7 linked regions of the Homo sapiens genome follow. The protein of the gene in region 5 purifies or fractionates together with the protein of the main gene of each other region. This does not show direct contact. Each region holds a gene or a part of one and is shown on either strand. Other genes may lie near its edges.

Region 1 (3,500 bases), on a different chromosome or scaffold from region 5:
AGTAGGTAAGACCACAGACTTTGAAGTCAAAGAAAAATGAATTTTAACCTACGTTCCACCACTTACTAGGTATGTAGTCTCGGGCAAGTTAGTTAGCTGTTTTCAGCCCTAGTTTACTAATCACTAAATGAGGATAACAGGGCCATATTACTAAATTACTGTGAAATTAAGTATTAAAATCCAAGTAAAGTATCTGCCACAGTACCAGATACACAGAAAGTAATCAATAATGCTAGCTATTTTTGTTATAAAGTACTGGAATCACAATTATTCAGAGATGAAACTACGACAATCTGAAGTATTCCACTTTTGGGATATCTACGTCCAATGCAAGGACAATATTTTAATGCGAACATTAAAATGTACTAGAATTATTTCAATTGAAGATTAAACAGTTTGATAAAATATTCTACTTTTTTGGTTACAGTACATTAAAAAACTCAACAAGATGAAAAGGTTCTGCCAGTATTTAATGAGATGTTTTTCAAAAAATCATATCTTAAAAACTCAAAGATCTCTGTACCATCTAGGGCTGTAGATTTAGATTTGGAAAATAGGAAGGGACTGGGCTCCCAAAGTCTAGAGCTAATATAAAGGATTCAGGAAAATGCCCAGAGCAATATGGAAACATCAGAGGAAATCCATAATATATATAAGGTTTCAAGGTCTTGTAGAAGATCTCAGGCTGGCCTAAAGAAATGGTAAAGGAAATTGCCTTAAACAATCAAATGAAAAGGATTTCCTGTAATCTCTTTAATGTGAATTTCTGATTTAAACTTCAAGAGCTTCTAAAGGCCCTCAGAACTTCCCCATAGCACTGGATAGCATTTTTCATATCACACACCACTTACACTGGCACCAGACACTGCCTCCAGGAGGAAAACATAGCTATTAAGATTTCCCAACCTCTTAATGTTGAAAGTAAGAGTGAAAAACAAAGCTAAGCTTAGAAAACACTTCAGAAGAGGAAAGATGTAAGGTAAAGTGATAACAGGAAGATCTTCGTGAAATGCAGCTGAAACCCAATGGACACCAGCTGTCTATCTAAAGCTTCTCTAAAATGTAAGACGAACTGAGCAGCACTGGGAATGGATTCTAGAAAGATGTTATAGATTATTCAGGAAAAACAGAAGCACAAATCTCAAAATTTTTTATCTGAATACAGAATTTATTATTTTTACACTAAGAAATTCTTTACTTAAATAAATACTATATAATATATATTTTTCAGTCAAATTAACTACAAAAGACACTTACCTCCCTTTTTTTAGCTTCGTTTGTGCTATACTTTGGAAAGAGGTAGGAAAAGATATTTCCGCAGCAACAGGCAACATGTACCAGGGGACCTTCTTTTCCTAAACTCAAACCTGATGCCACAGCCAGGACTAATGTGATGGTTTTAATCATTAAAGTCCATTTTCCCAAGTAACCTCTGATGATGAATCCACTTAAAATAGTTTTAATCTACAAGGCAAAGATTAAGGCAGCTTAATGTCCTTTAAGAAACATGAGAATGTAACGAATCCAAGTTATTTTCTTGTTTTATGCACAAAAACAACCTTGCAAATTTTAGCAGTCTACAGAAAAATTTACAGTTAATTTTTCGAAAACTTTGCCTATTATGCTACATATAATAAATTGATATTATAATCTAATTCTCTACCCAAGAAAGGAGAGAGGGCAACACTATCTCAGGAACAAAATCAAAATATCAGGCCATGTTAAAATGAATACAGACCTTAATTATAAGGATTATAATTACATAACCAAAAAAAGGGCAAATTTGAATATTTCTGTTGTAAAAATAAGCATAATATTTTAAATATATTTTGGACATTATGTTAGAAATAAGAATATTATGTTTTCTCTGAGTACTGTAATTATGTGCAATAGTTTTTTATGTATCAAGAATGAGTAACAACTGTTATATACTGCATGATATTGCTTTTTATGAAAGATATTCTTAATACAAACTTAAAGATCAATACAATTCCATTTTAAAAAGAAATGTATTAGGAAAAAGTTGGTAACTTATTTAACTACAGAAAAATAAAAGAGAAGAGATAAGTTCAAATCAAGTTCAATCAATCCTATGTATAACTCTACTTTATTGTGATGAAAAATAAAACCCAAAAGTTTGTACTGTTGACCCACTGTGATTAACTACTTTCTCAAAGCATAAAATGGCCAAATTCAAGAATAATTAACTTATCTAATCAAAAGGTAATTATAAAAAGTGAATGAATCAAAATCAGGGTCATAGCCACGTGTGGTGGCTCACACCTGTAATCCCAGCACTTTGGGAGGCTGAGGCGGGTGATCACTTGAGGTTAGGAGTTTGAGACCAGCCTGGCCAACATGGTGAAACCCCATCTCTACTAAAAAAAAAAAACAAACAAAAAAATGCAAAAATTAGCAGGGCATGGTGACAGGTGCCTGCAATCGCAACTCCTCAGGAGGCTGAGACACAAGAATTGCTTGAGCCTGGGACGCAGAGGTTGCAGTGAGCTGAGATTGCGCCACTGCACTCCAGTCTGGGCGACAGCACAAGACTCAGTCTCAAAAAAAAAAAATTCAGGGTCATAACAGCAAAGTAACAACTAACCCGTCAAAGAACATTAGGTCACAAGATACTTCTTCCAGGCTCTTGATGTTTAACTAAATAGTCTGAAAATTTGCCTAGTCATGTGTTAAATTAGTGGTGAGAGAAAAAAAAAATCAGCCTTCACAGTAAATGACCAAATGACTATGGGGAACAATATTTTTCAATGATGTCTACCATCAGCTTATACTTAAAAAAATTTTTTTTTCATATTATGAACAAACTATCCCCTCCCTCCAGAAAAGCCAACTTTTATTATCACTAAGGTCAAAAAGATAAGCATCATAATAATGTTTAATGACACTAAATATTACTTGGCTTACCTCTGGAATTCCAGAGCCACAGGCATATGGAGCAAATACCTTTACCAGGGAAACTGCAAGAAAGGCAAAACTCAAGGCCCAGAAGATGTACATTATGTAGTTCATGATATAAGAACCAGGACCCTAAAAAGAAAATAGTTCGAGAGTATGAATTTAATTTACATTGCACCTCTAATGCAAATGCTTGTCATAAGAAACTTCAGTAAACGGCCAGGCATGGTGGCTCACGCCTGTAATCCCAGCACTGGGGAGGTTGAGGCGGGTGGATCACCTGAGGTCAGGAGTTCGAGACTAGCTTGGCCAATGTGGTGAAACCCCGTTGCTATTAAAAATACAAAAATTAGCTGGGCATGGTGGCGCACGCCTGTAATACCAGCTACTCGGGAGGCTGAGGTAGAAGAATCGCTTAAACCCCAGAAGCGGAGGTTGCAGGGAGCCGAGATCGTGCCACTGCGCTCCAGCCTGGGCAACAGAGTGAGACTCCATCCCACCGGCCAAAAAAAAAAAAAAAAAAAGAAAGAAAAGAAACTTCAGTAAAATGTGTAAAAGTCTCCTGGTTTATTTCCACAATAATA
Region 2 (3,500 bases), on a different chromosome or scaffold from region 5:
GTAAGTTACTGAGGAAGAGACTTGTCCAAATCTGTATGTGCAGAGCAATTTACATGATTTGAGCCCTATTACTTAAATCACTACACAGTATGGCCTGGAAATCTGCAAACGCTTCCAGTTAAAGCAGCTGTTTTTTGTGCCTTTCATGGTGCCTCCAACAATGGCCCCCCAAAGTCAAATAATATTGGGCTAATGGAAAAAATAGTGAATTAACTAGGTTTCCTATTTATATAAAAATTTTGAAAACAGTCCTTGCATTAGATTTATATCAATTATATGTATATCAATTACATGCAGGAGAAGCAACACACCTAAGGTACGCATGCAGTTAAAACCAAATAGAGATAATTGACATCTTCTCCCTCAAGACAACATGAAATTCATCAATACCTGTCATGCAGCTGGTATCTTTCCCGAACTTCTTCCAAAATGATTCTCTTTGGTCCCTCTCCTCCAATTATGAAATTTAAATCTGGATATTTCTGACAGAGTTCAGGTATTATACCACTAAGCAAATCGATCCCTGAAAATATAAAGTTGAATGTTGGAGATATTAATATTTAAACTTAAAAAAATTCACCAGAACGACTGAGAATCCACTTATTTTGAAAAGTATTAGCTATGCACTCCATAAAGGAGAGAAACTCTCTTAAACCTTTTCCAGGAGTGGAATTGTTTGCAAACTGGCAGTGGTCCCCCAAGAGTTACAATTCTTGAAGACGTAGACCTTGACATGCATTACCTTCCACACACCCAAAATATGGACTATTCTGTTTCATCTCAACAGACTATTCTTTAAGTTATTCACTTGTGTTTATACATTGCGTACTTCTAAAAAAGGTATATTTAAGGTGGCTAAGGTTTGAGTTCGTTTTCTCCAGAGCAGGCAGCTGATTGGAGATCTGGGTCTTTTCCCAGCTTTTTTAACCAGCAAGCCCATTGATCGTGGGGAAGTTTCAAGATCTATAAAATAAAGATACCTATGTACCTAAAGTCTCTTTCAGCTATAAAATTCTATCAGTCTGTGATCCCACTTACTGCCACAGGAAAAGGCTAAGCAACGAAATCTAACTGCTGCCTCCACTTTGTTTAAAATGTGGCTGGTACAGAGAATTTTGCAGTGAACACTACATTATCGCAAAATTTAAGTTCAAACCAGCTATAGCCCACTTTCCTGGAATGAGGGTAAATGAAGGCAGCAGGGCATCAACTGTTAGATCACTACAGTCCATAGAACAAAAGGATGCATCTTGGCTCCTTTTTTCTCCAAAATGATTTTCTTATAATATATAAACACAATCTCAGGTAATAGAAAACAATAAAGTAAATTATGCCCTATTAGTCTGAAAAAGTGAGTGGCTATCCAAAGTCCCAACAATGTCAACACTATTTAAGAATCTAGTTCATTAACAATTACAAAACGTACATATTCAAAAGTAAGAGTAGGCAGGGCGCGGTGGCTCACGCCTGTAATCCCAGTAATCCCAGCATTTCGGGAGGCCAAGGCAGGCGGATCACAAGGTCAGGAAATTGAGACCATCCTGGCTAACATGGTGAAACCCCGTCTCTACTAAAAATACAAAAAATTAGCCGGGCGTAGTGGCGGGCGCCTGTAGTCCCAGCTACTCCGGAGGCTGAGGCAGGAGAATGGCGTGAACCCGGGAGGCGGAGTTTGCAGTGAGCCGAGATTGCGCCACTGCACTCCAGCCTGGGAGACAGAGCGAGACTCCGTCTCAAAAAAAAAAAAACAAAAAAAAAGTAAAAGTAAATATAAAATAATCCACCTAGAGCTAAGTTTATTAATTTTAAAAATGCACACACACATAAGAATTGTATTTCTTAATCTTCCACCCCAAATAGGCAGATCAGTTATAAAATAGATGATATTTTATATCAGATATAAAATAGGAGAAATGACATATATATTATAGGGTCATTTTTATTAAATAATACAAAGTAGAATTCATTAAGTAAACTCTGCTAGTACTTTCAAACTGTTATTGTATGTATCAAAAATTCCCACGCAGCTTTTCTGAATATGAAGGCTTCTCATTAAAATCATAGCTATCTTTGTTTCATGTCTACTAACAAATCACTCAATTGGATTTCTAGATAAACCAGAAGGTAGTTTAATGACTTTTAACATTTAGTCTCCTACAATTCCTTCAATCCATTTTCTTCCTCACCCTTTTCTTTCTCGTACAAGGTTAAGAGCCCATTCTTCAAACAAACAAAAAACAACATAGAGCAATAGTCATAAATGATAATAGCTAACAGTAACAGAGTGCTTGCTATGACAGGCAATATACTTTAAATTCATTATGTCATTTAATCCTGACAAGTATCTCATAAGAAATGGAACTGATTACTATTACCAATGATCTATATTCTTATTCTAAGAATAAGGGCTTTTCCCCACCACTATAAAAAAATTTATTCTGGAGCCTCTAAGAAGGGTATAATGCAATGGAACCTAGAGACTTTCGACTGCCATGTGAACACAAAACAGACAATGAAAATCTCTGATCCAAACTGCTTTTAAAGCTCAGTCTAACAATATTTTTAAGAACCTTCTGATCTACACCTAGGATATGAGTGGCTGGGCATGGGTGGAGGAAGAGGAGAACTTAGCTCCAGAAAAGCTGAACTCGTGTGTCATCTCTGTTACTTACTGTGTAACCTGGGTGAGTTACTTACCCTCTCTGAGACTCAATTTCATGTAGATAACATCTACCCTACAGTTGTTGGGAGGGTCAAATGAGGTATTGTACCACGAACAGGCTTTATCAACTGCAGAATACAAATGTAGGTTGTCATTACCACTACAGAAGGAAGCAGGTGAGCGTGCCTACACATGCAGAGTGCTGGTAAATCCTGACTGAGAGCAAAACAGGCTTGGAAGAGGAGGCTCAGGAAAAAGACATCCAAAAAGCCTGGATAAGGAAAACTTTGATTTATCCTCTCTCTCACTTAAGACATTCCAGTGGGACTTTGATATCTGGTCCAATAAACTCCTGAGGAAATTAATTTGTTAATAAGGAATGGACCATTAATACAACTACTCACTTTTGGGCTACAGGCATGGCTGTTCCTTTTCAGAATGTTACTTTCTGCAGGGTGCCTGGCATCTGGAGAGGGTTCGATAAATAACTGTTCAATTACTGAATTGAGTACAGGAAAGGCCATACCATCACTCCATTGGTGGTTAGCTCAGCTAGTTAAAATACCACATTAGGGAAGTAAAGGTAACAGGTTTAATCTTTGCATGGGTAGTTAATTTTGCTGATCCTTGATCACACTTGTGTCATACTCTTTCTCAGCTAGCCATCTCAAGAAGATATGCTATTTGGTTAAAAAATAAATTAGGTACAATTCCTAAGTTACAAAAAAACACATCACTAATGTCCCAGGAGGAATTCAGAATACAGAATGCCAGTCGGTTCACATGTTCCTGATTAAAGAATGAAAGCATGTCATTGCCTTCAAACCAGAAAATGAAG
Region 3 (3,500 bases), on a different chromosome or scaffold from region 5:
GTGCCTGCAACTCAGGAACAGCTATCTGGCCGCACAGCTCTAGGGAAACTCAAAGCAGGAACAGCTCTGGGTCCTGGAGACGCCCCTGAGAAGAGGGCCCAGTATCCCTGGGGCCTCAGTCCATCAGCCGCTGCTGCACCAGGCGGGAATAGAGGTCCTGTCCCTCCTAGAGCTGGGCAAGCTTCTGCAGCTTGCCCTCCTGGAGCACCAGGATCTGGTGGGCGCGCTGAACTGTCTGCAGCCTGTGAGCAATCACCAGCACTGTGCGATCCCCACGGGAATTCCAGTCCTGCAGCTGAAGGGGTGATCACAGTGCCTCAGAAAGACAGGAATGAGATGGACACCACATCCACCTGGGCACCATCTCTTATGATTTAGGGTAAAGAAGGTGTGAAATAAAAGAAGGTAGGAAAGGGCAGTAGATAAAGGCCTGGACTGCCCTTCTCTCCCGGCTGTACTGCCACAGCTGGAGGAATGGAAGCCCAGGAGGGAACTGGGGCTGCCCTCACACCACCGGATTCCATTCCCCAACCCCAAGAAGGCACAGACTGTTTCCACTAGTAGGTCCTTCGTCCTCCCTCTGCCCAATTCTGCACAGTCTGATCCTCCCAGCATGCCCCTCCCAGGCCCCACTGTCCCCTGCCCTCTCACGGTACTCACGGCCTGCTCGCACTGCACATCTAGGGCACTAGTAGCCTCATCCAGGATGAGGACCCGCGGGTCTCGTACAAGGGCCCGGGCAATGGCCAGACGTTGTTTCTGTCCCGCAGCCAGCTGGCTTCCCTTCTCCCCTACATCTGAGGAAATCAGAGAAATTCCCTTCCTCAGATACAAGTGACACAGACAACACACAAGGAGGGACAAGTGCACAGCAGGTACTTCCAGTAGGACCTCGGGAGGTGGGAGGGCCCAGTGCGGGGAGGGCCCAGTGGGAGGAGGGCCATGGGGTGGGGACCTGACGGGGCTGCCCACGGAGGGAGCACCACTGCTGCATTGCTCTCTGCAAACAAAGACTCTTGATCAAGAGGGAGGCTGAAGAATTCAGTGTGTGGGGAAGGAGACGTAGGAATGGAGGAAAGGGCAGAGGAACAGCAAACATCAAGCTACAGGGACACGACCTTCACCACTAAGAGTAAGTCTGATTTTCTCTTTTTTACTGAAGGAGCAAGCTTACAATTTGTAGAAGATACCTGTGTATATTCCATGCTCCATTTCCTGGATGAAGTCATCTGCGTGGGCAGCCTGGGCAGCCGCCATCACCTTATCATCTTCGCAGCTCTGCAGCCCATAAGCAATGTTGTTCCTCACAGAACCGGAGAACAGCACAGGCTCCTGCCCAACTGAAACCACCTGTGCAGCAGGGACAGGGGCAGAGGACTATGTGTAAACCCCCAAGGCAGGGGCCCTTTTGTCCTCCCCACCTACCTCCCTCAGAATGAACACCTGGTGCGCCTTCCCGTGGATCTCCCATCCTCTCTCTGTACATGCTCCCCTCTCCTGTCCCCTGTCTTCTCCCTCCTCACCCACCTGGCTGTGCAGGTAGCAGTGTTCATACTGTGAGATGGGCTTTTCATCCAGCAGCACCTGTCCCCCTGTGGGCTGGTACAGATTCTGCAGCAGGGCAGCCACTGTGCTCTTCCCAGACCCATTGGGTCCCACCAGCGCCGTCACCTCACCAGGACGTAGGGTAAACGTCAGCCCCTAGAAAACCAGAAAAAGAGTTAAGGGCCTGCCCCTTCTCCCTCAAAATCCCTCCATTTCTCTTCTTAGCAGAGGCAAGACCAGGTTCTCAGAGGCAAATGAACTATAGGCTGTGATGTCCAATTATGCATTAGCAGCAGAGAGCAAGGGTCCAGGTTTCCTCCCTCTTTCAGGCACCTTGAGCACAGGCCTGTCAGGGCGATTGGGATATGCAAAGGAGACGTCTTGGAATTTCACAACCCCCTGCAGAGTGGTGGGGGCAAGCGTGCCAGGTGAAGGCAGATTTGGCTGTCGGTCCATGTAGGAGAAAACCTTCTCTGCAGCTCCCACGTTGCTGAGCATATCCCCATATATGTATACCAGGGTCTGGAAAACAGGAATGGGAGAGCCGGCTAATTAAACACACTTCTACCAGAAACCACCCTCCCAACTCCTCACACACTCCACTCACAACTGCACTGCTCCTCCTCCATACTCAAAAGAGATTCTCCACTTTTAAATGTACAATTTGGACGGAATTTAAAAGTGGCACCAATACCCCAGTGTTCCAATTTGCAATATAAAGGATATACAGTCCCTTCTCCTACCATACAGCATTGCCTCTAGCCCCAGATCTTTTCAGTTACTGCTTCCTATTACTTGTGCCCAGTTCTGTCTTGCTTGATTAGACGGGGAGCTCCTTAAATGCAGGCACTGTGCCCAACTCACCTTTGTAGCCGTCAGAGTGCCCAGCGCAGTTCTCTACACAAAAAAGATGTTTATCAAGTGTCTAGGAAAATGTTTAAATAAAGCCCTGGATGAAGTAGCTGTTTTTGAGAACTGGTAAATGTAGGAAGAGATCTAAATGCTCACTCTGCCTTTCCTCATCAAACTGTACCACCGGGTAATGAAATGGTAGATGAGGGGAAGTCTCCCTTCATAGACTACTTCAGCTAATACATGAAGAATGATAGAGTATCTCCCTTTTGCAGCCCTAATTCTGTCATGGATGTAGGTACTGCTCATCAGTGGCTGATGTTGCCACAAATAGAGAACCAGACATTGTGTGCCTCTTGGAGGAAGAATGCATCACCACCTAAAAAGTACTGTTGCTGGAAAAAGACCAAAAAAAACCCCTCAATCTCACAAGCTTCTAGGTTTATCTATCAATAGACAGGAAGTACAGAGGCAGAAGAGCATATAATACCACAGGGATTCAGTCAACAAAATCCAGACCCTAAGAAACTCCACAGGACAAACAACCTATTTCTTCAACAAATAAACTGTGCAAGGGAAACTTTTAGACAGATACATGGATTGATGGGTGGATGGATGGATAGATGGATGGATAGATAGATAGACAGACAGACTTAAAAGATGTATCAACCAGTCACAATATGTGGACCATTTCTGGATCCTGATTTAAGCAAAGTATAATAAACACACTCATACACATATACTACATGGATACCACAAGTGGAAATTTGACAATTGACTATTTGATAAATTTTAAGAACTACTGTTAATTTTTTGGTGTGATAATGGCTTTGTTGTTATACACTTTTAAAGATGTTTGTATTTTTAAGAAACATACTGAAATATTTACAGATGAAAGTATACAATATCTTGGATTTGCTTCAGAATAATATGGGTGGGGGGAAGTGGCTGGGGATACAGATCCAACAAGATTGGGCATGAGTTGATCATTGTTAAAGCACAGGATGTATACATGTGAGTTTGTAATATTATTTTGTCTCATTTTTGGCATATGTTTAAAATTCTCCATAGCAAAATTACTTGCGGGTTTTGGTTTTGTATTG
Region 4 (3,500 bases), on a different chromosome or scaffold from region 5:
GAGACCTTGTTTCAAAAAAAAATAAAAAAAAGAAAAGCTTCAGGGACCGGGAGAGGAGCTGGCCTGGCACATATCAGGTGCTTGGTTAACCTTCACCAGTGCCATCCTTTTCTCTGACACAACACTCACGGTCATCTTAGGAAGAAAATGAAGACGGGGGGCAATACCAGCAGCCGCTCCGCCTGTGAGCGCTCACTGCGAGCTGGGCTCTGCCCAAGGTACTTCCCGGGAAGCACTGCCCAGACTCCGTGCAGCCTCAAGCCACGGTGCCTTTTCCTGCTCTTGTAGCCCTTCCCAGCTGCAGAAGCAGGTCTGAGAGCCCAGTAACTCCCACGGGAAGGGCAAAGCTAACGGGAGGGGCTCCGCCTCGACTGGCCAACCTCGAAGGCTGGAAAGGACCTATCCCTGCAGCTGGGACACTTCCCCAGATGCACCAGGCTCCCCAGCACACCCGCCTCCCCCCGCCCCACCCCTGGCAGCCCTGACTTGTCCTTCCAAGCTTCACCCTCAGTCCACATCCTCAGCGGAGCCACCCCAGGTCCTCCAAGCACTTCCTCCAGACTCAAATTCTGCCCAGCCTTTGAGGCAGCCTTAGATGTGGCCAGTCAGCTTCCCCATGGGACAAGAGACCTGGCCAGGTGCATCTCAACCTGCTGGCCCTAGCCTAGCAGGCACAGCAGGGCAACCTGGGCAAGGGCACCTCTCTCAAGATGGGACCGGAAGGTGGACCAGGCCATGACCTCTCGGTGACCTGGGACTGGGAATGTCCCTCTCTAGACACAGCCTCCTTCTTGATGAAAGGGGGGTGGTCTCACAAATCCTTGCCTAGGAGTGGCTGGGAGGGCAGAAGGAATGACAAATGACAGCTCCTCTGATATGTGGTGTGGACAGGATTTCCTTTGGAGAAGGACAGCCAGGGCCTCGTGAAACTACTCCAGAGAGAACCTAGGTGGCAGGCTCACCTGGGCCCCAGTAGGCCACCCACCGAGCCCAACATAGGGAGCACCAGGGTAGATCCTAAGAAGGCACGTGGGAGCCTGCACTGTGATCAGCAGGCCACCCCACTCCCAGTACGCTTATTCTGAGCACCACAAGCCTCAAAATTCCTTTTTTTTTTTTGAGACAGTCTTGCTCTGTTGCCCAGGCTGGAGTGCAGTAGCACGATCTCGGCTGGCTGCAACCTCTGCCTCCCAGGTTCAAGTGATTCTCCTGTCTCAGCGTCCCAAGTAGCTGGGACTACAGGTGCCCGCCATCACACCCGGCTAATTATTTTGTATTTTTAGTAGAGATGGGGTTTCGCCACATTGGCCAGGCTAGTCTCAAACTCTTGACCTCAAGTGATCCACCTGCCTTGGCCTCCCAAAGTGCTGGGATTACAGGCATGAGCCACCACGCTTGGCCAAGCCTCAACATTTCTGCCATCTCAGAGAACTGCAATAACCCCCACTTCTCAAGGGGTAAGCTGAGGGACACAGGGAAGAAACATTCCAGGCTGATCAGAACCCCCATTCCAGGGCTCCTTATGTACCCCACATTGCCTCACCAACCCCCTCCCACCCCCAAGAGGTCTCAAGATCCTCAGGCCTGGCTCAGAGCCCCCAGGCTAAGGCAGGAAAGCTCTGTGGCTCAGGGCCAGCCTGGGTTCAAGGCCTGGCTTGGCCATTTTCTTCAGATTCTGGAACCTCTGCAAGCCAACTTCCACATCTGTGAGATAGCAGGGCCCCTCTCAAAGGGTGGGGGACTCCACCCAGCTCAGGAGAGATGCCCAGCATAGCGCCCACCCGTGGTAAATGTTACTGCTCAAGCAGCTGCTCCCATGATGATCGTTAACGTGACAACTGTTAGCTCTACCACTGCTCTGTGCTGGGTGAGCTGGGGGCAGGGGCTGGTGGTTTCAAAGGCTGGCCTCTGCAACTGCCCACCTGCCCCATACTCACTGCCCAAAGCAAGCCTTCCTTGCCTGGGCACCTATCAGAGCCATATGGGCACAGAGGCCCCTGCAACCTGAGGTCTGGCAGTGGCACCTCAGGGGACACTTAAACTCTCTGAGGCCTCAGCTTCCCTTGGACAAAACAGGCTCCCAACAACCCAGAAAGGGGGTACTGGGGCCTCTGGTCAGCGAGCGCTCACCCGCAAGGGCCCTGCTGCCCGGCCACACCTGCCCACCGTACCTTGACATAGTAGGTGATGAGGATCTTGCGGAGGTCGAAAACCTGCAGCATGGAGGCAGCATTATTGTCACTAATGCTATAGCCCTCCAGCACGTACTTGCTGGCTGTTACCTCCCAAGCCAGCCAGCGCTGCCCAAAGGCAGCATTGAAGGACAGGACCCGTGGCAGGTGGCCAGGTTCACAGCAGCAACAGCCCTCGTCCTCCTCCACACCCTCGGTGATAGCCTCCACCTCGCGCTGCTGGCAGTAAGTGCCTGTGGAGGAGGGGTGTGCAGTCAGGGGCTGCTAGAACAATCCCTACCTGCCCTGTCCTGGGAGAGTGACCAACATGGCATCAGAGGCCTGCTGCCATTCACCCCCTTGGACGCCAGGGGAGTCAACCTTATTGGATGCCAAGATTCACGAAAGAGCGCCTGCCTTTCTCCTCCCAACTCCCAGCATCCAAGGGCAGGGCGGGAGGGAGCAGGGACACGGTCTGGCCCCTCTGCACTCTCGGGCATCCAACACACACGTCTTCCTGAGAGGAAGGAGCTGGCTCACTCATGGCGCCCAACCCATGGGCCAAGCCTGAGACCACAGAGCAGGCTGGGTGTGAGAACTCAGACCTCCAGGCCCAGGCCCTCACTGCAGTGACCTGTAGAGTCACTGGGACCTAAAGTTGGGGCAGGCACAGGGCTTGGCCAAGAGACCCTGCCACCTCATTGCTCAGACTGGGAAACGCAGGCCCAGGGAGGAGGAGTGCCTTGCCCAAGGCCACCCGCCAGCCTGGACAGAGCTGGACTGGACCTCCTTCGCACGTGCTATTGAACACAGCTCCCACATCAGGCCCGAGCTGTGCCTGCCCACCCGAGCCTGGTCCTGCGGCTCACCCCGGAACTCAAGGCCACGCAGCTGGAAGGTGACGAGGCCATTGCCAACCTCGATGAGGTGCACCAGGGCGTTGAGGTAGTCAGAGGCCAGGACGAAGCAGTCACCAGGGCCATAGTTGCCCCAGCGGCCCAGCACCAGGTCCCCACACAGTGTGTGCTGCAGCGAACGTGTCAAGTGCTCATAGAAGATGGAGTTGAGGTTGTTGTCATCAGCGCCTAAGACCCAGAACAGACGGGCAAATGGACAAAGTGACAAGTTAGCGAGGCTCCCTCCCCAGGGAGGCCCTGCCCTAAAGCCCCTTGGATGGCTGGGTACACACCAGGGTTCCTGTCCAGCTGTGTGACCAGGCGGGTGTTGGAATGATCCACACGTTTAGTGCTGTTCAGAGAGAGTGCAACAAGGCGGTTGGCCAAGAAGGTGAAGAGAGGGTGCACCCTGCTCATGCTCTCCCTGTGCCAC
Region 5 (3,500 bases):
CGCCTGGCTAATTTTGTATTTTTAGTAGAGGCGAGGTTTCTCCCTATTGGTCAGGCTGGTCTCAGACTCCCGATCTCAGGTGATCCGCCCGCCTCGGCCTCCCAAAGTGCTGGGATTACAGGCGTGAGCCACTGCACGCAGCCCACAGTCTTTTCTGTTGCTCATTGGCAGGTAAGGGTAGTGGAAGAAGGTGGTAGGGGTGGTGGGAGGAAGCCAGCGTCACTGACTCTAGTGTGGGGATGGTGGAACTCAGCAAGAAGGTGACAGCAATTTGACCACTGCCATTTGACAGTTTCTGCTTAAGCAGTCAAGGGCACTAACCTAGAATGGTTGCAGGGATGCTAAATCATAAGGAAGCTTTGCAGTGGGGTCCAAAGTTGGTATGTAAGCATAAAGATGCACGTGGATCTCAGGAAAAAAATAAAACTAATTTTCCTGTTTATTTCAGCTTCATTTAATTATTATTATTATTATTATTATTTTATTTTATTTTTTTTTTTTGAGACGGAGTCTCGCTCTGTCGCCCAGGCCGGACTGCGGACTGCAGTGGCGCAATCTCGGCTCACTGCAAGCTCCGCTTCCCGGGTTTACGCCATTCTCCTGCCTCAGCCTCCCGAGTAGCTGGGACTACAGGCGCCCGCCACCGCGCCCGGCTAATTTTTTTGTATTTTTAGTAGAGACGGGGTTTCACCTTGTTAGCCAGGATGGTCTCGATCTCCTGACCTCATGATCCACTCGCCTCGGCCTCCCAAAGTGCTGGGATTACAGGCGTGAGCCACCGCGCCCGGCCCCATTTAATTATTATTATTATTTTTTTGAGATGGAGTCTCACTCAATCTGTTGCCCAGGCTGGAGTGCATTGATGCTATCTTGGTTTACTGCAATCTTGGTCTCCTGCCTCAGCCTCCCGAGTAGCTGGGATTACAGCTGTGCACCACCACACCTGGCTAATTTTGTATTTTTAGTAGAGATGGGGTTTCACCATATTGGTTAGGCTGGTCTCAAACTCCTGGCCTCAAGTGATCCACCCACCTTAACCTCCCAAAGTGCTGGGATTACAGGCATGAACCACCATAATAATTTTTATTATGTACTTTATAATGTACACTGTATTATCACTGTAGTACATATATAATTTATATGTAAGTGTACATGTATTGGGAGCATATACTTGAATTTTTGTTGTTGGGCATTCATGATCAAAACATTTGGGAACCAGTGGCTTATTTGATATTTAGCATTTTCAGAAAGCATAAAATATACAAGGTGTTGGCCAGGCACAGTGGCTCATGCCTGTAATCTCAGCACTTTGGGAGGCTGAGGAGGGTGGATCACCTGAGGTCAGGAGTTCGAGACCAGCCTGACCAACATGTGTGAAACCCCGTCTCCACTATAAATACAAAAGTTAGCCAGGTGTGGTGGCATGCGCCTGTAGTATACCTCTAAGTATACTAGAACTATGTTGATGTTTTCCTCTCTCTGCCTTGGCCACTAGGAAGCTCAGAGTCAAGTTTGTATCCAGGGTCTTCCAGCTTGTGCTTAAGTGTTTTAATCGTCTAGATTGTTTTTAATGGTTTCTGCTCTTTGTCTCAGGTTTTACTATAAAATACATAACACATTTCCTTCCCGTTCTAAATATTACTGTGATTGTATTCTTATAGCCAAATCTTTGTTCTTATTCTTATTTTATTTTATTTTTTATACTGTTGAATCCCTCTGAGCCTTGCCTTTCCCTGCCTCCTCTTCTGTACTCATTTTTGCTAAAATTTGTAAGGGGATAAATTCTTGAAAAGCTTTGCACATTTTGAAGACTTGTTTGTTTTTTAATATTTATTATAGTAAAACTCAAATATACATCCAAATAGAGAGCAATAAGCCCTTGTGTACCTATCACTCAGTTATGTCTGTCACTTAGTCATTAACTTGGGGACACTCTTGTTTCATCTATATCCTTTAATCCTCATTATACTTTTTTTTGGGGGGAGAAGTTTATTAATTGATAGGTGTTACTTTGGGGTAAATGAGGAGGGAGCCCACTAGTATGCTGGGGAACTGGTAAGGTTTTTTTGTTTTTTTCTTGAAACAGAGTCTTGCTCTTGTCGCCCAGGCTGGAGTGCAGTGGTGCGATCTCGGCTCACTGCAACCTTCGCCCCCCTGGGTTCAAGCGACTCTCCTGCCTCAGCCTCCCAAGTAGCTGGGATTACAGGCACCTGCCACCACACCTGGCTAGTTTTTGTACTTTTAGTAGATGGGATTTCACCATGTTGGCCAGGCTAGTCTTGAACTCCTGACCTCCGGTGATCTGCCTGCCTCGGCCTCCCAAAGTGTTGGGATTATAGGCGTGAGCCACTGCGCCCCGCAAAGGTTCTTTTCTTTGGGATCCTTTCCTGTCCTTAGAGAAGACCCTTTAGCTTTCTGCCTGAGGAGCTGATGCCTAGTTGTCAGGCTTTCTTCTTGCCCAGATAAGGGTGTTAACTCCTGTGTACAGATGTTCACTTAATCCTTTTTACCAGTCCCACATCTCACTATAGCCCTATGCTACACCTGGGTTTCTCCATCCCAAGCCCCTTTAGGGTCTCTAGTGCCAGTCTTCTTCCTCATTGGCTATGTCCCCTAGGTTCTTTTTTATTTTTCCCAACGGTGATGCACTTACTGAGCAGATGCAGTAATCTTCTTACCTGAGCCTACATATAACCATTGGCCTAAATGTATGATGGTTTGCCAGCATCAGCAATAAGACTGGTAATGGGGTAAAAAACAAGTTCTCTTAAGGCTAGCTCTTGATCCCCTGTTGTAAGCTGACCAACTTAATCTGAAAATAATTTGCAGCATGTAAATATTTTAGGATTAGAGCCATCTGTATACACACTTAAAAGTAGTTTTGCTACCATTACATTAGTCTAAAAGAGTTACCTAAGAATGCCAAACGATATTTTGTTCGAATGCCTTGGTTATTTTAATTTAAAAGCATTTCTTTCAAAACCGCTTCTCTCTTCACAATAGTAGAGCTGTGGCAGTGAACTAAGAGGTCAAGGATTCAGTGAATCTGTGGCTAATTTCTTGTTCCAATCTGAGAGCTCTCTTTGCACTATGATCAAAATGGAGTCTTGCCAACTGCCCAGGGTAATAGCCTTGCAAGTCTCTTCCTTGTTGAGCAATGAATATAAGTTCCACATGGCTGGGGAGGCCTCACAATCATGGCAGAAGGTGAAAGAGGAGCAAAGGCATGTCTTACATGGTGGCAGGCAAGCCTCTTCTCATTATACTTTTAAAATTATTTGGTGGCTGGGTGCAGTGGCTCATGCCTGTAATCCCAGCACTTTGGGAGGCCAAGGTGGGTGGATCACTTGAGGTCAGAAGTTCAAGACCAGCTTGGCCAACATGGTGAAACCTTGCCTGTACTAAAAATACAAAAATTAGCAGGGTCATGGTGGCACGCACCTGTAATTCTAGCTACTTGGGAAGCTGAGGAAGAATTGTTTGGACCCAGAGGTAAAGGT
Region 6 (3,500 bases), on a different chromosome or scaffold from region 5:
GTTTTGTTTTGTTTTGTTTTGTTGAGACAGAGTCTCACTGTCGCCCAAGCTGAAGTGCAGTGGCACCATCTTGGCTCACTGCAACTTCCACCTCCTGGGTTCAAGCGATTCTACTACCTCAGACTCCCAGAGTAGCTGGGATTATAGGCACACACCACCACACCCGGCTAATTTTTACATTTTTAGTAGAGACGGGGTTTCACCATGTTGGCCAGGCTGGTCTCAAACTCCTGACCTCAAGTGATCCGCCCATCTCGGCTTCCCAAAGTGCTGGGATTACAGGCGTGAGCCACGGTACCTGGTCATATACCTTATTATTTTTTAATTAAATAGAGATGGGGTCTCGCCACGTTGCCCAGGCTGATCTTGAACTCCTGGGCTCAAGCAATCCTTACACCTTGGCTTCCCTTAGTGCTGGGATTACAGGTATGAGCCACTGTGCCCAGCCCTTAATACCTATTTTTTGGAGTAAGACTGGATCACACCCATAGTATCAGTACAACCGCATATTTCACTGTACTTAGAAATTATCACAAAATAGTCTGCTACAGTGGCTGTAATCCCAGCACTTTGGTAGGCTGAAGCAGGAGGATGCTTGTGGTCAGGAGTCTGAGACCAGCCTGGGTGGCTGGGTGCGGTGGCTCACACCTATAATCTCAGCACTTCAGGAGGCCAAGGCAGGAGGATCGATTGTACCCAACAGTTTGAGATCAGCCTGGGCAACATAGTGAGACTCTGTCTCCCTCTCTCTCTGTCTCCCTCTCTCTTTATATATATATATTTTTATTTATTTTTGTTTGTTTGTTTAAGTAAAAAAGAGACTAGCCTGGGGAACATAGTAAGACCCATCTCTACAAAAAAAAAAAAAAAAAAAGGCCAGGCATGGTGGCTCAAGCCTGTAATTCCAGCACTTTGGGAGACTGAGGCAGGCGGATTACAAGGTCAGGAGAGCGAGACCATCCTGGCTAACATGGGGAAACCCTGTCTCTACTAAAAATACAAAAAAAAAAAAAAAATTAGCCGGGTGTGTTGGTGAGCACCTGTAGTCCCAGCTACTCGGGAGGCTGAGGCAGGAGAATGGTGTGAACCTGGGAAGTAGAGCTTGCAGTGAGCCAAGATCGCGCCACTGCACTCCAGCCTGGGTGACAGAGCAAGACTCTGTCTCAAAAAAAAAAATTAGCCCACTGTAGTGGTGCACACCTGTGGACCCAGCTACTTGGGAGGCTGAGATGGGAGGATCGCTTGAGCCCGAGAAGTTGAGGCCGCAGTAAGCTATGACTGTGCTACTGCAGGCCAGGCTGGAGCGAGACCCTATCTCGCCAAAAAAAAAAAAAAAAAGAAAGAAAAGAAATTAACGGAAAGTAGCAGATGGATTTACAATAGACCACATTAAAAAACAAACCTCCGGCTAGGCGTGGTGGCTCACGCCTGTAATCCCAGCACTTTGGGAGGCGGAGGCAGGTGGATCACCTGAGGTCAGGAGTTCGAGACCAGCCTGGCCAACACTGTGAAACCTTGTCTCTACTACAAATGCAAAAATCAGCCAGGCGTGGTGGCGCATGCCTGTAATCCCAGCTACTCAGGAGGCTGAGGCTGGAGAATCGCTTGAACCCGGGAGGTGGAGGCTGCAGTGAACTGAGATGGCGCCACTGCACTCCAGCCTGGGCGACAGAGTGAGACTCCGTCTCAAAAAAAAAAAAACCTAACGCAGAGATTATCTCAATGTTTTATGATCCCACATTAAACATGTATTATTTCTATAATGAGAAGTAAAAATTATTTTTTTAAAAAAGGAAGAATAGCTGCCTCAAGCTTTGCAATAAAAAGTAGTCTTAAAGACAAACTTAAGATAAATTTTCTAACAGTAAATGGGTCAAGAGCAAAGGACTTACTTTTTTATCGGTCACAAATTGTGAATTATATTACAGAAGCTTCTCAGAAACTACCCAGAAGGGAACTGACTTTGAGTCCACAAACCATTTATTTAATCAAGTATGGCACACCCACTCAGAATGCAAACAGTGCCTCTACCCATCCCTCTGAATTGCCTATTCTACCAATAAACACTGCTTCTTTCTTCCAAAAACTGAATCTAATTAAATCAACCAATTAACTGTCTTGCTCAAAGCGGTGCAAATTTCTATGGCACATGGGCAAACCCTAAAAAGTGGGCAAGTCTGACTTTTCTGAACATCCTAGTTCTAAAATACTATCTTAAGAACATAGCTGCTTACACATTTCCCAAGAATTCCTGTTAAAGAAAATTCCTGAGTATCTCAAATAACTCTGGAATTCTTCAGATGCAGCTATGTAAGAATCAAGATATGCTTCCCCTTAGAGTGAAAACTGAAATGAAAATCTTGTCCTCCAAGTTGTAAATTACATTATTTCTGAAAAGCCTTCAGGTATCTGAGGTATCTTATCAGGATCTGCTAAATCTAAATAGATATATGACTATTCTAACTATTTCTACTGTTCTAGCCTCATAACTATCGTCTCCTTTTCCTTAACTATCACATATAAACCCCCAGTTACTGTTTCTCCCTCAGTGGAAACAAAAGCTAGTAGCTATTTAGTAAACCAGCTTTATTAGTTATTTATTTGCCTCCTCCTAAGAAGCAAGACTAACACTTTGTTCTTTCTACTTTGCTTATTATTTAACATAAGAACACAACTTTTGCCCCAATTCCTTGAGATAGAATTTTTTATTCTGTAAGCCAGAGAGCTCTCATCCTTCTAATATCTCATTAAAACTACACCCAAAGGGAAAAAAGTTAGGGTCAAAACTGTCTCAAAGGTAGATAACTTTTTTTCTTTCACACTTATTAACTAACTCAGGAAAGTAAAAGGAAAACCTAAATCTCAAAACTTCTATAAAGAAATGGAAGCTCTTTTAAAAAGAGCTGTTAACGTGAAGTTTTAAAAACAAACACACAAACAAACTACTATATTTCAGGTGCAACCAAAACATGGCATTTATTTCATCAAATGTTAAATCCACAGGAAGAAATTTGGTAATTAAGATCATGGAATAATAATCCAATTTGCTATAGAGAAAAACTTGCTGCAAATCCCCTGGAGATCTTTAAAAACAGTACAGAATTTTCTATCAAGACTGATTTTAATAAACTCCTACAAAGAGATAAAGGACTGAATTAAATAAACTCCCAAAGGTTCTTTCCAATGCTAATGTAAAAGTTTCCCTCGGGCAAATTGCCACACCTTACCTCAAATAAAGGTTTGTGCTCCTCCCACTCATCTGAATAGCAGAGAGGAAAAATTACTGCTCTATTGTTCAACTGTTACTATTGTGAAAACTGTGTGTCTACTGTCATCACTAAACAGCAATGTGTGATTGTTTCATAACTCCTTAACACAGCATCTAGCTCATCAAATTCTAAACCCAAATCCAAGAGTTGTTCTTTTACTATACACATTCATTCATCTCTTCAAGCACAGAAACATACTCTTGAGAGTGTAAAGTGATCCTAGACGTTTCT
Region 7 (3,500 bases), on a different chromosome or scaffold from region 5:
CATTAAACAGAAAAACTCATTCCAGAAGGATAGCAGTTTTTTGGCTTGTTGCATTTGAATTAAGAACTTGGAGGCTGTCTGTGAAATGACAGCACTGAAGAAGAGGCTTCTTCTCTGTACAGTGAAATAATTATACTCTGAGATGTAGTGATTTTAAAGAACCTGCATACAAATGCCATTTTACAAAGAATTGTGTCTTATGCTTCAATTGATGGTTTCACAAAATGCCATTAAAAATGGACGATCAGATTTGTCTTTCCCATTTTTTTGAGATCTAGCAATATTGAACTTCGTCCTCATCTCAGCAGAGCACAGGAATTTGTGTCATTCATTTCCTCTTGCATGCAGGATACAGACTGTACATAGTCATTAAAAGACAGGTTTACAAATTGCCTCTTGCTACTTCACAGGTTTAACAATGAAAGCACAAGTGACATGCAGGTTGCATGCAAGCAGATGTGTTCAGCATTAAGAATGTGTTTCTCTGCATAGTGTGATGGTTATGTCATTATTCACTCCTGCACTTCAAAACAAAGACGCTAAAAGGGAAAAAGTAAGTGTGGCATTTGGGTGATAGCACTGAGAATCTATTGACAGAGAGTTCCACAAAATGCCGATCACTGAAGATAACCACTTATCTACATCCAGTAGGATTTGCTTTCATGGTGAAATGGTGTGTGTGTTCACTTCAAGTGACAGCGAATAATACACACTTGAATGCTATAGAAGCTATCCAAGGGAAAAGGAGGCTTTAGGAGTCTACAGGCTGGAGAAGGGTCAGTGATGAGCATACAGAAAAAGATAAAACAGTGGGGTCCAATTATCCTACCAATGTCTGACTTGCTTTCCCTTTGATCTGGTTGAACACTACTGTATTTTTTTTTTTTTTCAGAGACACTAATGAGAATGTATCCTGGGGAAATCTTGGAGCATAAGGTGGACCAGGGTCCACAGTAGAAATTTCTCTGCCTAGGAAATTTGTGAAAAATACATTTGAGGAACACAATCAAATGAGAAAGGAAATCCATTATAGTATGTGTTCAATTATAATGATCTATATTTTGGTGGTAGAAGAAAACCTCAAGGAGATTACTGTATTTCCTTTCCTTAGCAAACTGGCTGCTCTGGATTAATACAGTAATAAGAGAGTTCTCTATAAGTAGAAAGCCATTCAAATTGGCATCCATAAGCTTTAGTTTAATGAATCGTAATAAGAAGAATGGCTACTATTTTCAGGTGCTTCCAATGTAAGGCATTTTCACATATTTCATTTAATCTTCAGAAGATTCCCACAAGGAAAAATTTTATTGTACTAATTTGATGGATTTGGAAACTGAGGTTCAAAAAACGAAGTAACTTGCCCAAAAGTGCTTTTCTGTTAAGTTGTAGGTCTGGGTGTTTCAGCATCCTGGATTGTTTTCTTATAATGGATATCCATTGGGATTCTTAGTTTCCAGCCATGGGTGAAATACAGCAATGAAGGGAGTAGGAAAGTACTCAAGTCTCTATCATTATATAGAAAGTAAACCACCAGCATGGACTCAGCTGAGGCTCATAGATTGCCTGTGCTACTTAATGTAGACCACCTGTTTGATTTCCTGAATGTGGTCTATGTAATAGGTTTTTGAACTGGGGCTCTCACTCCTGATCAGAAGCCAACGTGAAGAAGGCTTGGTTTGGGGGCTGCAGGGTACCTGTTGGTGTGCGAGTTGTTGTGCATGAACCAGCTCCGGTTATTGTCCACATACATTGCCCAAGCTTTGTCGTCTTTTCCTAACATCACATCCTTCATCACGTCCATGCGAGCCACACCAAAGGCAGGATCAGGGTGGTTGTCATAGCGATCTACCGTGAGCTCCCAGTAGTGGATGCCCTTGGAGAAGCCAGTCTTCCCTAGCACCACCCGGTCATCATAGCTACTACAGGTCACTGTCAGGTTGTCATTGGAGAGGATGATGTCCGAGTGCGCCGAGCCAGGGTCGAAAGCAAACCAGGCCACTGGGAACAACAGAAGGGAATCAGGTTATTAAGACAGACCCAACAAGCTCAGCACCATAACATACTCCTGGGCGGGTGAGGAGCGTTGTGTAGCGTTTTCATGCTGCCATGCAGGAAGGAGGCGTCCAGGGCCAGGGCAGACAGGGGCACGTCCTGGGAGTTGGTACTCTCTGCACCAGAAGCAGACGGAGGACACACGACCGATTCAGCAGGGGTTACCTGGCTCAGACTGCACTCCCAACCAGGTGATCCGGGAGTGAAGTGGCATCGATTTTGGAAGGTGCAAGTCCCTTCACCTGGTGACTGGCAGAACAGTGCACCAGAGACATAAAGGGAGAGGGGATGCGCTAAGATGCCTGTGTAACCCCTGAGGCGGGGAGGCTAGGAGCTAGAGTCCTAGATGGAGGAGGGATAAAACACATGGAGTGAAATCAGGAAATATCCCTTCGGCAGAAGTGCTAACATCTAGTCGCTTTGAAGTCTTCCTCGGCTCTAGTGAAAGCTCACAAGCTGCGAAGCTATAAGCAACATAAACTAATTTTCATGAGTGATTGTGACTTGCATGTAGGACAGGTTGCTGTCTGCATAACTTAAAAAACACAGTTTGCGTGCTACTCCTGAAACTAACACGTCAGAAATTTTGCTGGAGCAGTAGGAATTTCGGACATTAGGTGCAGATAGAATGATGTCTTTGTACGCATTGTTACGCCCCAAGTTCTAAATGCCACCTATAAATATCACACTCGAGAGATGTAATTGCTGATTTATTAAACCTGTGAGACACCTCACATGCACTTTGGTCTTTGCTATTTGGTAACAGAATAAGGTTATTCCATACCTGCCAACAGCTTTTTAATGTCAACTGTTGTCATTCCAAGTGAAAGGCATGGGGGAGAGAGATAGGAAGCAAAATTGACATGGATAAGAAAATGTGTCTCTCTTGATAGACTAGTACCCCAAAAGGACTCAATTTAAAATGCCACATATACTAAACAGGTGCTCTCTGACTTGTACCTTTACCCACATTTAGTGCTCATAAAGAGTGCTTTGCACTGATGTAAAAGAAAACTGGGGGAAAAGTAAGGTTTGAGGCATAACATTAAACACTACAGGCATCTTTTCCATTTTTTAAGAGTTTGAGAAACTGCTATAATAGGGTTAGAATGACAATTAGACAATTTTATTGACATAAGACAAGTTGCCGCCATTTATTTTGTGAAGGAAATTGAGCACACCAATCACGTAAGTAAAAGATAATTACAATAGGTATACTTGCCTAATTGAGAGTAAGGTGCAGATTGTGTCTCAAAATTGCATCCTATAAAGAGATACTACACATCAACGCTATGAAACAACAACCAGGTTGATAAAAATTACTTGTATACGCTTAAAAAGCACCAGTTGAATATAGATACCAGAGGCCTGATCCATGAAAAAACAAAGCCCTTTTTATATTATTTAGTTTGTTGGGTAAAAAACTGCCCCTCTGCTCTTTCAAAATG

The links.
Region 1: the proteins of SCAP (region 5) and CLCN3 purify together in Homo sapiens (affinity purification with mass spectrometry; one large-scale study listed by BioGRID and IntAct). This does not show direct contact.
Region 2: the proteins of SCAP (region 5) and PIGA purify together in Homo sapiens (affinity purification with mass spectrometry; one large-scale study listed by BioGRID and IntAct). This does not show direct contact.
Region 3: the proteins of SCAP (region 5) and TAP2 purify together in Homo sapiens (affinity purification with mass spectrometry; one large-scale study listed by BioGRID and IntAct). This does not show direct contact.
Region 4: the proteins of SCAP (region 5) and PCNX3 purify together in Homo sapiens (affinity purification with mass spectrometry; one large-scale study listed by BioGRID and IntAct). This does not show direct contact.
Region 6: the proteins of SCAP (region 5) and SPTLC2 purify together in Homo sapiens (affinity purification with mass spectrometry; one large-scale study listed by BioGRID and IntAct). This does not show direct contact.
Region 7: the proteins of SCAP (region 5) and TRIM9 purify together in Homo sapiens (affinity purification with western blotting, with the first as the bait; one study listed by BioGRID). This does not show direct contact.

Annotation. Positions count from the first base shown.
Region 1 is NC_000004.12:169,690,078-169,693,577, reverse strand, and holds part of CLCN3 (H(+)/Cl(-) exchange transporter 3), read right to left. Parts: intron 3,049-3,500; coding exon 2,926-3,048; intron 1,465-2,925; coding exon 1,258-1,464; intron 1-1,257.
Region 2 is NC_000023.11:15,325,524-15,329,023, forward strand, and holds part of PIGA (phosphatidylinositol N-acetylglucosaminyltransferase subunit A), read right to left. Parts: exon of another isoform or gene 2,791-3,500; coding exon of another isoform or gene 2,698-2,790; intron 524-2,697; coding exon 391-523; intron 1-390. UniProt on the Homo sapiens protein: Catalytic subunit of the glycosylphosphatidylinositol-N-acetylglucosaminyltransferase (GPI-GnT) complex that catalyzes the transfer of N-acetylglucosamine from UDP-N-acetylglucosamine to phosphatidylinositol and participates in the first step of GPI biosynthesis.
Region 3 is NC_000006.12:32,828,740-32,832,239, forward strand, and holds part of TAP2 (antigen peptide transporter 2), read right to left. Parts: intron 2,068-3,500; coding exon 1,879-2,067; intron 1,702-1,878; coding exon 1,528-1,701; intron 1,351-1,527; coding exon 1,191-1,350; intron 798-1,190; coding exon 661-797; intron 296-660; coding exon 167-295; 3' UTR 1-166. UniProt on the Homo sapiens protein: ABC transporter associated with antigen processing. In complex with TAP1 mediates unidirectional translocation of peptide antigens from cytosol to endoplasmic reticulum (ER) for loading onto MHC class I (MHCI) molecules.
Region 4 is NC_000011.10:65,629,276-65,632,775, reverse strand, and holds part of PCNX3 (pecanex-like protein 3), read right to left. Parts: intron 3,420-3,500; coding exon 3,361-3,419; intron 3,257-3,360; coding exon 3,041-3,256; intron 2,426-3,040; coding exon 2,172-2,425; intron 1-2,171.
Region 5 is NC_000003.12:47,469,442-47,472,941, reverse strand, and holds part of SCAP (sterol regulatory element-binding protein cleavage-activating protein), read left to right. Parts: intron 1-1,426; exon of another isoform or gene 1,427-3,500. UniProt on the Homo sapiens protein: Escort protein required for cholesterol as well as lipid homeostasis.
Region 6 is NC_000014.9:77,610,138-77,613,637, forward strand, and holds part of SPTLC2 (serine palmitoyltransferase 2), read right to left. Parts: intron 1-3,500. UniProt on the Homo sapiens protein: Component of the serine palmitoyltransferase multisubunit enzyme (SPT) that catalyzes the initial and rate-limiting step in sphingolipid biosynthesis by condensing L-serine and activated acyl-CoA (most commonly palmitoyl-CoA) to form long-chain bases.
Region 7 is NC_000014.9:50,980,106-50,983,605, forward strand, and holds part of TRIM9 (E3 ubiquitin-protein ligase TRIM9), read right to left. Parts: exon of another isoform or gene 3,317-3,500; coding exon 3,275-3,316; exon of another isoform or gene 3,177-3,274; intron 2,861-3,176; coding exon 2,837-2,860; intron 2,395-2,836; exon of another isoform or gene 2,218-2,394; intron 1,999-2,217; coding exon 1,695-1,998; intron 1-1,694. UniProt on the Homo sapiens protein: E3 ubiquitin-protein ligase which ubiquitinates itself in cooperation with an E2 enzyme UBE2D2/UBC4 and serves as a targeting signal for proteasomal degradation.